Linked DNA regions of Homo sapiens: region 2 is linked to region 1. Evidence: fine-mapped expression QTL. Tissue or cell type: naive CD8 T cells. Region 1 holds a variant in brackets; the other region holds the start of a gene. All regions are shown on one strand. Distances are from middle to middle.

Region 1 (8,095 bases):
AGCAGAGGGAAGGCCATCTGATCTCATTGAGTCACTGTGGCAAAGCCTTTGGCAGGCACAGAAGCCCACAGGCAGCCTGGAAGTGCCCATCTGTCCAGCTGCCATCAATCCCTGGCAGGGGTCCTCGGGTGCCCTTCCACCAGCCTGGCAGGGGCTGCAGATCAGCCCTCAGTGGCCCAAGCACTACCTGGAACCAGTCCTTCCAGCTCCTTCAGCCGCAGCTCCCAGGGGAGTTGGTAAGAGCAGCAGGACGTGGCCAGGCGTGGTGACTCACGCCTGTAATCCCAGCATTTTGGGAGGCCTAGGTGGGTGGATCACCTGAGATCAGGAGTTTGAGACCAGCCTGGCCAAACGTGGGGAAACCCCTTCTCTACTGAAATTACAGTAATTAGCTGGGCACGGTGGCGGGTGCCTATAATCCCACCTACTCAGGAGGCTGAGGCAGGAGAATTGCTGGAACCTAGAGGTGGAGGTTGCGGTGAGCTGAGATGGCACCACTGCACTCCAGTCTGGGCGACAGCAAGCAAGACTCCATCTCAAAAAAAAAAATACTAAAGTTAGTGGGGCATGGTGGCACACAACTGTAGTCCCAGATACTCGAGAGGCTGAGGCAGAATTGCTTGAACCTGGGAGGCAGAGGTTGCAGTCAGCTGAGATTATGCCACTACACTGCAGCCTGGGTGACAGAGCAAGACTCTATCTCAAAAAGAAAAAAAAAAAAAACCGGCCAGGCGCGGTGGCTCACGCCTGTAAAGCCAGCACTTTGGGAGGCCAAGGCGGGCTGATCATGAGGTCAGGAGATTGAGACCATCCTGGCTAACATGGTGAAACCCTGTCTCTACTAAAAATACAAAAATTAGCTGGGCGTGGTGGCAGGCGCCTGTAGTCCCAGCTACTCAGGAGGCTGAGGCAGAAGAATGGCGTGAAGCCGAGAGGCGGAGCTTGCAGTGAGCTGAGATCACGCCACTGCACTCCAGCCTGGGTGACAGAGCGAGACTCCGCCTAAAAAAAAAAAAAAATTAGCAAGGCTGACATGCCTAAGTTTAGCAATCCTGAAAATGTGGATTATTCCATAAGAAATCTAAGAAAACAAGGAAAGAAAACAGTTCTCAGTGGCAGTCAGGGAAACCTGCCATAACCAAGTGGCCTGTTCTCTAATGTCACCTACATGGGTTTTTAATCTTTGCAGATTCATGTGTGTAAGTACAGGATGTGGGATTTGCAACCTTATGTGGTCCTCCCTGCTCACCTAAGATGTAATCTACAGCTACCCTATTATCTAAGACAACCTGAGCCGGTGAATGAATTCCTCTCTGCTGGGCGGCCTTGCCGACGCACTTTTCTCAGCAAGAATTCCCGAAGTAAGATTCCTCATCCTGTGCTCGTGGGATGCCACTCCCCACCAAGTCGCCCAAAGACCCAGGTCCATATTTTTGGTACCCAGGATCCCCAAAGCAAGTCCGCGGACTGCTTAGTTCTGTAGCCTCCGCCTCCTGGGTTCAAAGCCATTCTCCTGCCTCAGCCACACAAGTAGCTGGGACTACAGGCGCGTGCCACCACATCCAGCTAATTTTTTGTATTTTTACTAGAGACGGGGTTTCGCCATATCACCCAGCTGGTCTTGAACTCCTAGGCTCAGGTAATCCACTTGCCTCGGCCCTGTAAAGTGCTGGGATTGCAGGCATGAGCCACTGTGCCCGGCCAACTGCTTAGTTTTCATGAGTTGTTTAGTTAGTGAGAGCTATAAACCAAAAGTATCTGAGACAGGCCTCAATGAATCTACTTACTGATTTATTTGAGATGAAGTTTTGCTCTGTGGCCCAGGCTGCAGTGCAGTGGCGCGATCTCGGCTCACCACAACCTCCACCTCGCGGGTTCAAGCGATTCTCCTGCCTCAGTCTCCCAAGTAGCTGGGACTACAGGCGTGCCCCACAGCGTCTGGCTAATTTTTATATTTTTAGTAGAGACGTGGTTTTGCCATGTTGGTCAGGCAGGTCTCCAACTCCTGACCTCAAGCCATCTGCCCACCTCAGCCTCCTGAAGTGCTAGGATTACAGGTGTGAGCCACCATGCCTGGCCAATTTATTTATTTTTTATTTCAATACTTTTTGGGGAACAGGCAGGTTTTGGTTACAGGGATGAGTTCTTTAGTGGTCAATAAGTTTGGAAAGGTTATTTTGCGAAGGTTGACGACATGCCTGTGACAGCCTCAGGAGGTCCTGGCAACATGTGCCCAACGTGGACACATGTTGCTTTTATACTTTTTAGGGAGACATAATACATCAATCAATACCTATCATATGTACATTGGTTTGGTCAGGAAAGGAGGGACAACTTGAAGGGAGGGGGCTTCCAGGTCATAGGTAGATTTAAAGATTTTCTTTTTTTTGAGACAGAGTCTCGCCCTGTCACCCAGGTTGGAGTGTAGTGGTGCGATCTTGGCTCACTGCAACCTCTGCCTCCCGGGATTAAGTGATTCTCCTGCCTCAACCTCCCGAGTACCTAGGATTACAGGCACCTGCCACCATGCCCGGCTGATTTTTTTTTTTTTTTTTTTTTTTGAGACAGAGTCTCACTCTGTCGCAGGCTGGAGTGCAGTGGCGCAATCTCGGGCTCACTGCAACCTCTGCCGCCCAGGTTCAAGCGATTCTCCTGCCTCAGTCTCCCAAGTAGCTGGGATTACAGGCACCCACCACCACGCATGGCTAATTTTTGTAGTTTCAGTAGCAACGGGCTTTCACCATCTTGGCCAGGGTTGGTCTTGAACTCCTGACCTTGTGATTCACCCGCCTCAGCCTCCCAAAGTGCTGGGATTACAGGCGTGAGCCACTGCACCCGGCATGCCTGGCTAATTTTCGTATTTTTAGTAGAGACGGGGTTTCACCATATTGGCCAGGCTGGTCCCGAACTCCTGACCTCAGGTGATCCACCCACCTCTGCCTTCCAAAGTGCTGGGATTACAGGCATGAGCCACTGTGCCTGGCTGGCTTTCAGGCTTTTTGTCTTTGGCTTGAAGGTGGGGTTTCACTGGGGACCTGCCCGTATCTGCCTAGGCATTCGACTGCCTCCTGCCACCATCAGGCATAGCTCACTGCAGCCTCAACCGCCAAGGCTGAAGTGATCTTCCCATCTTAGCCTACCAAGTAGCTGGGACTACAGGCAAGTGCCACCATGCCCGGTTCATTGTTTTTTGTCTGTGTCTGTATGTGGAGATGGGGGTCTTCCTACGTTGCCCAAGTTGGTCGTAAACTCCTGGGCTCCTGCCTTGGCCTCCAAAGTGCTGTGATTACAGGTATGAGCTACCATGCCCAGCCTACAAAACAATTTTTAAAAACTTAGCTGGGCATGGTGGTGTGTGCCTGTAATCCCACCTACTTGGGAGGCTGAGGCAGGAGGATCACTTGGGCCAGGAAGTCAAGACGGAAGTAAGTCATGATTGCCTCACTACACTCCAGCCTGGGTGGCAGAGACCCCTGTCTCTAAAAACAAAACAATCACACACACAATCATATTCATAGTTCAACA[T/C]GAGCACTTGAAGTAATTAAAGACCCCAGGGCAGCACACAGAATCTGCTTAGCCTGTAGATAGAGAACACAAGAAAAGCCATGGCAAAAAACTACGTATGTCCGGCCGGGCACGGCAGCTCACGCCTGTAATCCTAGCACTGTGGGAGTCTGAGACGGGCGGATCACTTGAGTCTAGGAGTTTGAGACCACCCTGGGCAACATAGTGAGACTCTATCTTTACAAAAAATACAAAAATTAGCCGGGTGTGGTGGTGAGCACCTGTAGTCCCAGCTACTCAGGAGGCTGATGTGGCAGGATTGCTTGAGCCTGAGGAGGTCAAGGCTGCAGTGAGTTTGTTTGTTCTCAAAAAACAAACAAAAAACAGTTTATAGTCTTTATACACAGCCGCTTTGGGAAAGCTCCATTCCTTAACTTGTGCTTGTCTTGGTCTTCCTGTGTGTAGTTACTGCTGTAGAAAAGTATTAATAGCTTCATTTTTTTGTTTTGAGACAGAGTCTCTGTCGCCCAGGCTAGAGAGCAATGGCACAATCTCTGCTCACTGCAACCTCCACTTACCGAGTTCAAAAAATTCTCCTGCCTCAGCCTCCCCAGTAGCTAGGATTAAGGCACCTGCCACCACGCCTGGCTAATTTTTTGTATTTTTAGTAGAGACAGGGTTTCGCCATGTTGGCCAAGCTGGTGTCGAACACCTGGCCTCAGCTGATCCACCTGCCTCAGCCTCCCAAAGTGCTGGATTACAGGTGTGAGCCACCGTGCCCAGCCTAATAGTCTCATTTTGTTTCTTTTCTTTTTTTCTTTTCTTTTTTTGAGATGAAGTTTCGCTCTTGTTGCCCAGGCTGAAGTGCAATGGCACGATCTTGGCTCACTGCAACCTCTGCCTGCTGGGTTCAATCGATTCTCCTGCCTCAGCCTCCTGAGTAGCTGGGATTACAAGCATGCACCACCACGCCCGGCTAATTTTGTATTTTTGTAGAGACAGGTCTTCTCCATGTTGGTCAGGCTGGTCTCCAACTCCTGACCTCAGGTGATCCGCCCACCTTGGCCTCCCAAAGTTCTGGGATTACAGACGTGAGCCAATGTGCCCGGCCTAATAGTTTCATTTCATGTAAACATAAGTAACTTCCAAGCAATTACGTAGAGGGCTAAAATTGTACCTGGTATTTAAGTCATCAGAACCGGTTCTGCAAGTGACTGTGTTTTGCATTATTGTGAAGATATGAAAATGTGGTGAACGACAATTTAAAGAGTGTTCCACATCACCGTTTAATTTCTTTTTTATTATTTATTTATTTTTGAGATGAAGTCTTCCTCTGTCGCCCAGGTTGGAGTGCAGTGGCGCCATCTCAGCTCACTGCAACCTCCGCCTCCCGGGTTTAAATGATTCTCCTGCCGCAGCCTCCCTGGCAGCTGGGACTACAGGCGCCCGCCACCACGCCCCACTAATTTTTTTAGTTTTAGTAGAGATGGGGTTTCACTATATTGCCCAGGCCGGTCTCAAACTCCTGACCTCAGGTGGTCCAGCCACCTCGTCCTCCAAAAGTACAGGGATGAGCCACCATGCCTGGCCTATTTTACTATTTCAGAGTTGAGGTCTCGCTCTGTCACCCAGGTTAAAGTGCAATGGTACAATAATAGCTCTCTGCAGCCTTGAATTCCTGCAGCCACCGATATTTCACTTCTGCATTCCAGCCTAGGTGACAGAGCCAGATCCTGTCTCTCAAAAAAAAAAAAAAAAAAAAAAGATATGGATTGCAATCTTGTTTCCTCTGGGGCTGAGTGAGGGATTGAGCCATGTGGGACAAGAGGTTTTTGACTTGTTCCATTTATTGCAGCATAACTTGAATCCAGCCGTCCTTTCTGGACTAGTGATTTTTGCCAGTCTCATGGCTAGAGTTTTACAATCAAGGCTATAGGGTCTTTGTTTAGGTCTATTTGGAGCTTTATGTATTTTCATGTGATTGTCTTTGTATATTGTCTGTGATACATGATACCAAAAAAGGAGTACTCATACATTTTATTTTATTTTACTATTTATATTTTTATTATTATTTTTTGAGACAGAGTCTCACTGTTGCCCAGGCTGGAGTGCAGTGGTGCAATCTCAGCTCACTGCAACCTCCACCTCCTGGGTTCAAGCGATTCTCCTGCCTCAGCCTCCTGAGTAACTGGGACTACAGGTGCATGCCACCACGCCCAGCTAATTTTTGTATTTTTAGTAGAGACAGGGTTTCACCATGTTGGCCAGGCTGGTCTTGAACTCCTGATCTCAAGTAATCCACCTGCCTCGGCCTCCCAAAGTGCTGAGATTACAGGCGTGAGCCACCATGCCCGTCCAGGTTTTATTTTTAATTTTTCAAAATTTTCATATTTCTTCAGAGATAGGGTCTCTCTCTGTCCCCCAGGCTGGAGTGGTTTGACCATGGCTCACTGCAGCCTCGAGCTCCTAGGCTCAAGGGATCCTCCTGCCTCAGCCTCCCAAGTAGCTGGGTCTATAGAAGTGAGCCACTGTGGCCAGGCACGGTGGCTCACACCTGTAATCCCAGCACTTCGGGAGGCCAAAGTGGGCAGATCACGAGGTCAGGAGATTGAGACCATCCTGGCTAACATGGTGAAACCCTGTCTCTACTAAAAATATTAAAAATTAGCTGGGCGTGGTGGTGGGAGCCTGTAATCCCAGCTACTCAGGAGGCCGAGGCAGGAGAATCACTTGAACTCAGGAGGCAGAGGTTGCAGTGAGCCGAGATCAGGCCACTGCACTCCAGCCTGGGCAACAGAGCGAGACTCAGTCTCAAAAATGAAATAATAAAATAAGAAGTGAGCCACTGCACCTAGCTAATTTTTTCTATTTTTTGTAGAGATGGGGGGGTCTCACTATGTTGTCCAGGCTGGTCTTGAACTCCTGGCCTCAAGTGATCCTCCTGCCTCAGCCTCCCAAAGCGCTGTTTGAGAGCCACTGCTCCCGGCCGAGTTATGGGTTTTTATTTATTTATTTATTTATTTATTTATTCATTTGAAACAGAATCTCGCTCTGTCGCCCAGGCTCTAGTGCGGTGGCGCGATCTCGGCTCACTGCAAGCTCCGCCTCCCGGGTTCACGCCATTCTCCTGCCTCAGCCTCCCAAGTAGCTGGGATTACAGGTACATGCCACCACGCCCGGCTAATTTTTTTGTATTTTTAGTAGAGTCGGGGTTTCACCATGTTAGCAAGGATGGTCTCGATCTCCTGACCTTGTGATCCACCTGCCTCAGCCTCCCAAAGTGCTGGGATTACAGGCATGAGCCACCACACCAGGCCTGAGTTATGGGTTTTTAAAGGTGCAGAGGCAGAGGTCACAGGCAAGTCATAAATCAGTACATGGAGGTTGTACACTGGTTTTGCCATAAATAGCAAGGAGATCTTGAAGCCAGGGACCACGGGTCATAGGTGGATTCAAAGGTTTTCTGATTTGGTGCAGAAGCGAATCTTTGTCTAAAACTTTGGGATCCGCAGGAAAGAATGTTAGCTCTGGGTTGTGGGCATGGCCTCCTCCAGGCCCCTCAGGATGGGCATAGCCTCCTCCAGGCCCCTCAGGAAGAAATTTAGGTAAGAGAAGGGTGGTCAGAGGCCAGTCCTCAGCTCCCGCTCATGTGAGGTCTGTGTGCCAGCACGCCCCTTTGGTGGGAGTCCCTGTTTCTGGAAAACAACTGAGGAGCACCTGCTAAGATGGCATGGTTTGCTTCTGTGGAGACTCTCGGGACTCTGGCTTCCATCTGTTGTTCTAAGCTCCTGTGACCTTCTTGTGACCTTCCTGTGGATCGGCTGCTCATTTCCTTCTCTGGGCTGGCTGGGGGCCTGGCTTGCCCTTGAAGGAACTCAACATTGTCCTTGCTTCTGTGCTTGGGAAGACCCACAGGCCCCTAAGGGCGGGGGGGGGTCCTTGTTTGGTTTCAGGAGCAGCAGGTGCAAAGGCCCTGGGGTGGGAGGGGTGAGATGTGAGGCCACAGCAGCGGGTGAGGGCCAGGCTGCAGAGGGTTTTGGGGACCATGAAGGTGGGCCCTTCAGAGATCAGGCAGGGTCAGGAAAGGCAGTAGGGAGGCCCAAGACAGCAGACACTGTGGTTGCTTCCATCTGGAAGATGGGCAGCTGCAGGAGCCTGGCTGTTCAGGGTCACACTTCTCTCCCTGTCCCGGCCCCATCTGCTGGGTGTCCTTCCTTGGAGCCCTTGACAGCACCTGAGCCCCTCCTCTCCATCCCCTGAACCTTGGTGGTTGTGCCCCCCCTCGGGGCCCAACAATCTCATTAGGGTGGCACTGAGACGCCTAATCAGCTCATGAAGCAGCGAGATAAAGGCCGGGGCTGGCACCCTGCGGAGGGAGGCCCAGCACTCACAGCACAGCCCCCTGAGACCCGCCCTGCACTTGGTGAGTAGTGGCCAACCCCGCTGTCTTTCCTGGCAGCCACTTCCCCCAGTGAGTCAGTGGGGGTCTGCTCATCACCCAAGGGGCAGAGGGAGCTGACAGGCTTTTACCACCGTGGCTGAGGTCTGGGTCTGCAGATGCCTACCCGCCACCCTGTTATTCAGAGGGGAC
Region 2 (8,080 bases), 24 kb after region 1:
ACAAAAAGTTAGCCAGGTGTGATTGTGAGCACTTGTGGTCCCAGCTACTGAGGAGGCTGAGGTGGGAGTATCACCTGAGCCTGGGAAGTCGAGGCTACAGTGAGCCACGATTGTGCCACTGCACTCCAGCCTCGGCGATGGGAGTGAGACCCCAGTCTTTTCTTTTTTTTTTTTTTTTGAGACGGAGTCTTGCTCTGTCGCCCAGGCTGGAGCGCAGTGGCGTGATCTCGGCTCACTGCAAGCTCTGCCTCCCGGGTTCACGCCATTCTCCTGCCTCAGCCTCCCGAGTAGCTGGGACTACAGGCACCCGCCACCACGCCCGGCTAATTTTTTTTTTATTTTTAATAGAGACAGGGTTTCACCATATTAGCCAGGATGGTCTCGATCTCCTGACTTCGTGATCCACCTGCCTCGGCCTCTCAAAGTGCTGGGATGACAGGCGTGAGCCACCGCGCTGGGATGACAGGCATGAGCCACCGTGCTGGGATGACAGGCGTGAGCCACCGCGCTGGGATGACAGGCGTGAGCCACCGCGCCCGGCCAAGACCCCAGCCTTAAAAGAAAAAAAAAAGAAGAAAACAAAGGAGAAACCACGTCTACTGACACCTTGATCTGGGATTCTAGCTTCCAGGACTGTTAGGAAGTAATTCCAGGCCGGGCATGGTGGCTCATGCCTATAATCCCAGCACTTTGGGAGGCTGAGGCGGGTGGATCACGAGGTCAGGAGATCGAGACCAGCCTTACCAACATGGTGAAACCCTGTCTCTACTAAAGATATAAAAATTAGCCGGGCGTGGTAGCGCACGCTTGTAATCTCAGCTACTCAGGAGGCTGAGGCAGGAGAATCGCTTGAACCCACGAGGCGGAGGTTGCAGTGAGCTGGGATCGCGCCATTGCACTCCAACCTGGGCGACAGAGGGAGATCCGACTCAAAAAAAAAAAAAAAAAAAAAGAAAAGTAATTCCAAACCACCACCCAGTCTGTGAGAGATTTTGTTATGTTATATTTTCTTATAACTGAGATAATTATTACAGTTAAAGAGATCGGACTTAACTGAACCCATCTTGCTTCTAACCTCCAAGCTGTCCTTGTTCATTCCTGGGTGTAGGCTGAAATAACTTCGGGAGGCGCTTAGTTTATAGTTTAGCTTTGAAACAAAGATGGTAACAGCCCTTTGCAAAACAAACTCCCTTCCTACCTGGGGACAAGACTGCCTTTTCAGGACTAACAAATTAGCCATAAGATTAGAAATTATGGTTTAGGAGTCATGTAGCTGGAGGCTACAAGATTCTAAACCTCCCAAATTGCTTCTCAGGATAACATCACTATTAAAAAACAGATCAGCGCTTGAGATATTTTGCAGACTCTGCACTCCATGGATCAGCTGGCACCACCCAGATTGATAAACTGGCTCATATCTTGTGGCCCCCACCCAGGAACCGACTCAGCACAAGAGGACAGTTTTGACTCCCTATCATTTCACCTCTGACCCAACCAATCAACACTCCCTACTTTCTGACCCCATACCCACCAAATTATCCTTAAAACCGCGGATCCCCAGCCGGGCACGGTGGCTCACGTCTATAGTCCCAGCACTTTGGGGAGGCCCAGGTGGGCGGATCACCTGAGGTCAGGAGTTCAAGACCAGCCTGACCAACATGGAGAAACTCCGTCTCTACGAAAAATACAAAATTAGCCAGGCATGGTAGTGTGCGCCTGTAGTCCCAGCTACCCGGGAGGCTGAGGCAGGAGAATCACTGGAACCCAGGAGGTGAAGGTTGCAGTGAGCCGAGATCGCGCCACTGCACTCCAGTGTGGGTGACAGAGTGAGATTCGGACTCAAAAACAAAAAAAAACAAAAAACAAAAAACTCTGATCCCTGAATTCTCAAGGACACTAATTTTTTTTGAGTAGTAATAAAACCTCAGTAACCTGTACAAGCTGGCTCTGTGTGAATTAAACTCTTTATTGCAATTCCCCTGTCTTGATAAAGTCTAGGCAGTGGGCAGGGACAATATGTTGGGTAGTTACAGTGGCACCCTGAGCAAACTAATACAATTACTAACATAATTTAATCAATTAATGTAATTTAACATAGTTTAAAAAAACTGTCACAGTAATTGTGATGTTGTGAAATATGTATACATTTAGTCTTCCGGTTTCCTGGTATCCAACTCCAAAAATCCTTAGAATCTGTGAAGTGACGTCTTTTTTTTTTTTTTTTGAGATGAAGTCTCACTCTGTCGCCCAGACTGGAGTGCAGTGGCACCAACTCAGTTCATTCTAACCTCCGCCTCTTCGCTTCAAGAGATTCTCCGGCCTCAGACTCCCGAGTAGCTGGGATTACAGGTGCCCGCCACCACGCCCAGTTAATTTTTGTATTTTTAGTAGAGACGGGGTTTCACCACGTTGGTCAGGCTGGTCTTGAACTCCTGACCTCAGGTGATCCACCTGCCTCGGCCTCCCAAAGTGCTGGGATTACAGGCGTGAGCCACCGCGTATGGCCTAATTTTGTATTTTGAGTAGAGACGGGGTTTCACCATTTTGGCCAGGCTGGTCTCGAACTTTTGACCTCAGGTGATCCGTCCACCTTGGCTTCCCAAAATGCTGGGATTACAGGTATGAGCCACCGCGCCCGGCCTGAAATGCAGTTTAAACTCGTTTGTTTTTCTTATGTTAAATTTAAAAAATACTTAAAAAAAAAAACATGAAGGTGTGATCCTGCCTTCCTGAAATTGTTTCTCTACTTACCTGTGCATGGAGAGAAGTTTGGAATGCTGTTTCCCCAATTATAATACGCTATAATACGCAGCAGTAGTTATTTTTGGGTGAGACTTCGGATGCTCGTCTTTGCTTCCTTTTTGGACTTTCCTGTGCCGCTTGGGTTTCCGAGGACGAGCAGAAGTAATCTCAGACGCAACTTTCCAAAATCCCCTCCTCCAGTTGCAGGGATGGCGGGGGCGGGTCAGCGGCGCCGCCCTGCGCATGCGTCGAGCCGTTGGTGGGGCCGGAACCTGGTTTCCCGGCCTCGCGCCCGAGGGGAGCGTATTGAGCGAGGCACCGGGACGTCGGCGGCTGGCGGAGCCGGGCGGGCGAAGCTGGAGCGGCGGTGGCGGCGGCGTAGGGAGGCCGGGGCCGGGGCTGAGGCCGCGGCCGGGTCTGCGAGGCCCTTGGGGCGGCAGGCGGCGGCGGCCCGGGGCTCGAGCCCGGAGGCAGGAGCAGCCGCCATGGCCGAGAGCATCGTGAGTGCGGCGGCCGGGCGGGAGCGGGGACGCCGGGATGAGGCAGCAGATTTGCCGGCCTCGGCCTGTGGGGGAGGCGGGCCTGCCGGCGCCGCGACTCGGCCCCTTTCTCTTCTCTCGCCAGGGCTTTCTCTGTAGTGGCTGGGCCCCTCTCGGGGACTTTCACCCCCCTCGGCTGCTTCCCGTCCGTGTCCCTCCCCAGGGGACTTACGACCCCGGTTCCCCGCCCTGGGCAGGGAAAGGCCGAGCCTTTCTAAGCAGGGAGAATGGACTGTGGCGAAGAGAAACCGCCCTCCTTCCCCACCCGTTTCCCGGCTCCAGGAGACTTCCTGGTCTAATTCCAGGGACTCCCAGCCAGTCCTGCCCCTCTCAGAGCCAGGGACACCTCTTATCCTAATCTCCCTCTGATTCTCTCCTCCTGCTCTCCCGCTTCCCAGCAAGTGCCTTGTCATGAGTCACTAAGGAGAGCAGCTCTGCAGACGGGGACGTTACAGAGCTCCCTCCCCACCAGAAGACCTGGGAAAATGAAAACACAGTAACTTGCCGGCTTTGCTCCTTACTTGGAAGGACAACTTGACAATTCCTCTTTAAAAGGAATGTTGTAAATGATGTTGATTTCACTTTTTACCTGAAATTGAAATTGTCGGCCCGGCGCAGTGGCTCACGCCTGTGATGTCAGCACTTTGGGAGGCCGAGGCGGGTGGATCACCTGGGGTCAGGAGTTCGAGACCATCCTGGCCAACATGGCAAAATCTTGTCTCTACTAAAAATACAAAAAATTAGCCGGGCGTCATGGCGCACTGTAATCCCAGATACTTGGGAGGCTGAGGCAGGAGAATTGCTTGAACGCGGGAGGTGGAGGTTACAGTGAGCTGAGATCCCTCCATGGCACTCCAGCCTGGGCTATAGAGCGAGACTGCGTCTCAAAAAAAAAAAAAAAATTGTCACACACTCCTCCTTAACGTAAAAAATATCAGTGACAAATCAGAAAACCAGTCCCTCGTTAAGTTGTGAGAAGTTTCTTCCCAAAAGTAAATGTGATGGGAAAAAAACTAACTGACCATTGGACAGGAGCATTTTGGTTAATATTAAGGAAGATTTGGGATTTCTGGGGGAAGCTTAGCAGTATTGGGTGAAGAGTAATGTTCATACTGTAGCATTGTGACAGTCTCTGCAGTTTTGCCAGGTGTTGTCTAGAATAGGTCTCCAGGCCCGGCGCGGTGACTCACACCTGTAATCCCAGCACTTTGGGAAGCCCAGGTGGGTGGATCACCTGAGGTCAGGAGTTCAAGACCAGCCTGGACAACATAGTGAGCCTAGGTGGCGTCACTGGACTCCACCCTGGGCGACAGAATGAGACTGTCTCACACACACAAACAAATGGGTCTCCAGGAGAACCTAGCACTTATTTGCAAGGCTGTTCTCTGGTGGTTCCATCATCTCTCCAGTCAGGGGCCCTCTTGGTGCCTCCATGTTTCCCAACCTGGAGATGAGTGGAATGAATATATGGCCCAGGAGAAACTTAGGAAACGTCGACTCCTTTTTTTTTTTTTTTTTTAACCTTATTTTATTTTTTTGAGATGGAGTCTCACTCTGTCGCCCAGGCTGGAGTTCAGTGGTGCGATCTCTGCTTACTGCAACCTCCGCCTCTCGGGTTCAAGAAATTCTCCTGCCTCAGCCGAGTAGCTGGGGTTGCAGGTGCTCGCCAACACGCATGGCTGATGTCTTTTTTATTTTTAGTGGTGATGGGGTTTCACCGTGTTGGCCAGGTTGATCTCGAACTTCTGACCTCGTGATCCGCCCGCCTTGGCATACCAAAATGCTGGGATTACAGGCATAAGCCACCGCGCCTGGCCTTTAAATCTTTTTAATTAAAAACATTTTTTTATAGAGATGAGGTCTCTACTATGTTGTACAGGCTGGTCTCTGAGCTCGAGGGATCCTCCTACCTTGGGGTCCCAAAATTGCTAGGATTACAGTCCTGAGCTACCATGCCCGGCCAAGAAACCTTTGACTCCTTTGAAAAATAAAATGTGGCCATGCAGTGGCTCACGCCTGTAATCCCAGCACTTTGGGAGGCCGAGGTGGGCGGATCACGAGGTCAGGAGTTCAAGACTGGCCTGACCAACATGGTGAAACCCTGTCTCTACTAAAAATAAAAAATTAGCCGGGTGTGGTGGCATGCACCTGTTATCCCAGCTACTCTGGAGGTTGAGGGAGGGGAATCGCTCAAACCCGGGAGGTGGAGGTTGCAGTGAGCCCAGATTGCGCCACTGCACTCCAGCCTGGGCGACAGAGCAAGACTGTCTCAAAAAAAAAAAAAAAAGTGTTAATCATTGGTGACTTTGCCTAGAAATAGGTTAGGAATTAGCACTGAAACCTTCTTTCAAACTACCTTTGTACTTTTAACTGAGTTAAAATAACCATTGACAAGTGAAAAGTGTTTCAGACAAGGCCATTTTTTTTTTCCCACTAGTGTATAAGGCTAGGCTCTCATTGACAGCATTGGATCTCGTTGAATGTCTCAGATTGTGAGGAATTAAAACACTCTTCTTTTGAAATTGATTTAAAAAGTTATTTTGAATTTAAGAAAGAGATCTTTTGAAAAGTTTCTGGGCTGGGCATGGTGGCTCACACCTGTAATCCCAGCACTTTGAGAGGCCGAGGCAGGTGAATAATGAGGTCAGGAGTTGAGACCAGCCTGGCCGACATGGTGAAACCACGTCTTTACTAAAAATACAAAAATTAGGGCGTGGTGGCTCACGTTTGTAATCCTAGCACTTTGGAAGGCCGAGGCAGGTGGATTGCCTGAGCTCAGGAGTTTGAGACCAGCCTGGGCAACACGGTGAAACCCCACGTCTACTAAAAAAAAAAAATACAAAAAATTAACCGGGCGTGGTGGCGTGCACCTGTAGTCCCAGCCACTCAGGAGGCTGAGGCAGAAAAGTTAGAACCCGGGAGGCGGAGATTGCAGTGAGCCGAGATCGCACCACTGCACTCCAGCCTGGGTGACAGAGTGAGACTCTTAAAAAAAAAAAAAAAATTAGCTGGGCGCGGTGGCGGGCGCCTATAATCCCAGCTACTTGGGAGGCTTGAGGCAAGAGAATTGCTTGAACTCGGCAGGCAAAGGTTGCAGTGAACCGAGGTCGCGCCATCGCACTCCCACTCTGGGTGACAGAGCAAGACTCTGTCTTGGGGGGAGAAAAGAGTTTCTGTGGATTTAACTGTATCTCACCAGTTCTTCAACTTCCCCAAGAAGCGTTCTAGTCTTATTTTCTTATAAATAGGGAAACTTAAGTTACCAAGAGGCTGTGTGTTCATGTTGTCAGGTCTGTCTCTTCCTGTGTATTTCATTTTGTAGTCTGTGTCAGAGGCTAGGCCAGAACTTTCCATCGTACAAATTATGTTTGTCTCTTGTTAAATACTGGAGTTGGCCTTGGAAACCTGGACTCCCATCTTCTGTGGTAGAGGATCAAGTAGGATGACTTCTTCACCTTAGAATTCTGCAGCCTGAACCATTTAGCTCTGTAAAGAATGGCGGTAACATGCTCTTGTTCCAGAGTCATCGTTTGAAGGAACATTCACATGTTCCCCTTCATTAGAACAGAGCTTTCCTTTTTAAGATAGCTAAGTGTTGGCAGACAGATTTTAGAAACAAATAAGTGGAAGTATTTACCTAATGCTATATATTGTGAAAACGTTTTTCTGGGGTATTGAATCTAGAATGAAGTATACTAGACGTTAGAAGTATAAAGAATTGTATTTCTTTTCTTTTTTTTTTTTTTTTTGAGACGGAGTCTTGCTCTGTCACCCAGGCTGGAGTGCAGTGGCGCGATCTGCTCACCACAAGCTCTGCCTCCTGGGTTCACGCCATTCTCCTACCTCAGCCTCCCAAGTAGCTGGGACTACAGGCGCCCTCCACCACGCCTGGCTAATGTTTTGTATTTTTAGTAGAGATGGGGTTTCACCGTGTTAGCCAGGATGGTCTCAATCTCCTGACTTAAAAGTTGAGAACATATTGGGTGGAGCCTTTTCTGCCAAGTGAAAGTTATGGGAAAATGCAGGACAGGGTTATCCTATTTTAGGAAAATCTAGATTAGGCTTAGTTACTTTACTAAAAGCGGACAAATCCCAGTAGACTGAGCCTTTATGGTGTTTTGTCCTGTATCAGTGGAAATCTTTTTTAGACAATGGCTTGTGACAGTTTTCATCTGCATAATGGTTGAAGAGGATGTTTAATGTAACACTCGTGGTAACCTCACAGAAAATAGTTATAGAATTTATGAAAAAGGAAATAAGGGAGGCCGGGTGTGGTGGTGCACACCTGTAATCCCAGCACTTTGGGAGGCCCAGGTGGGTGGATAACTTGAGGTCAGGAGTTCGAGACCAGCCTGGCCAACGTGGTGAAATCCCATCTCTACTAAAAATACTAAAAATTAGCCAGGCGTGGTGGCAGGCACTTGTAATCCCAGATACTCAGGAGGCTGAGACAGGAGAATCACTTGAACCGGGGAGGCAGAGGTTGCAGTGAGCCGAGATCACGCCATTGCACTCCAGCCTGGGCAACAAGAGCTGAAAAAAAAAAAAGAAATAAAAAAGGAAATAAGGGAATTGAAATGTTTCACTATAAAAAATCAGCTAGGCCAGGGTTGGTGGCTCATGCCTATAATCCCAGCACTTTAGGAGGCTGAGGCAGGTGGATCACCTGAGGTAGGCGTTTAAGACCAGATTGACTAACATGTTGAAACCCCGTCTCTACTAAAAATACAAAAATTAGCTGGGCTTGGTGGTGCACGCCTGTAATCCCAGCTGCTCAGGAGGCTGAGACAGGAGAATCG

Alleles and levels. Alleles are on the strand shown, and positions count from the first base shown. SD is a standard deviation of normalised expression in the study named.
For the expression in naive CD8 T cells of the gene that starts at base 3,046 in region 2, T is the low allele of the variant in region 1 and C is the other (large effect, 1.0 SD a copy in Schmiedel 2018).

Evidence for each region. PIP is the estimated chance that this variant, and not a neighbour inherited with it, causes the effect.
Region 2: NPLOC4 starts here. The variant in region 1 is fine-mapped to the expression of NPLOC4 in naive CD8 T cells (Schmiedel 2018, PIP 0.95).

Annotation. Positions count from the first base shown.
Region 1 is chr17:81,656,325-81,664,419 of GRCh38, reverse strand. PDE6G (phosphodiesterase 6G) reads left to right here and starts at 7,878. Exons shown (of 4, transcript NM_002602.4): 1 at 7,878-7,927. RefSeq lists an enhancer at 305-939. The variant T/C (reference allele first, on the strand shown) is at 3,526.
Region 2 is chr17:81,632,078-81,640,157 of GRCh38, reverse strand. It overlaps NPLOC4 (NPL4 homolog, ubiquitin recognition factor), which reads left to right and starts at 3,046. Exons shown (of 17, transcript NM_017921.4): 1 at 3,046-3,242. The coding sequence starts at 3,228. It overlaps TSPAN10 (tetraspanin 10), which reads right to left and starts at 2,962. Exons shown (of 4, transcript NM_001290212.2): 1 at 2,752-2,962. RefSeq lists a silencer at 3,107-3,316.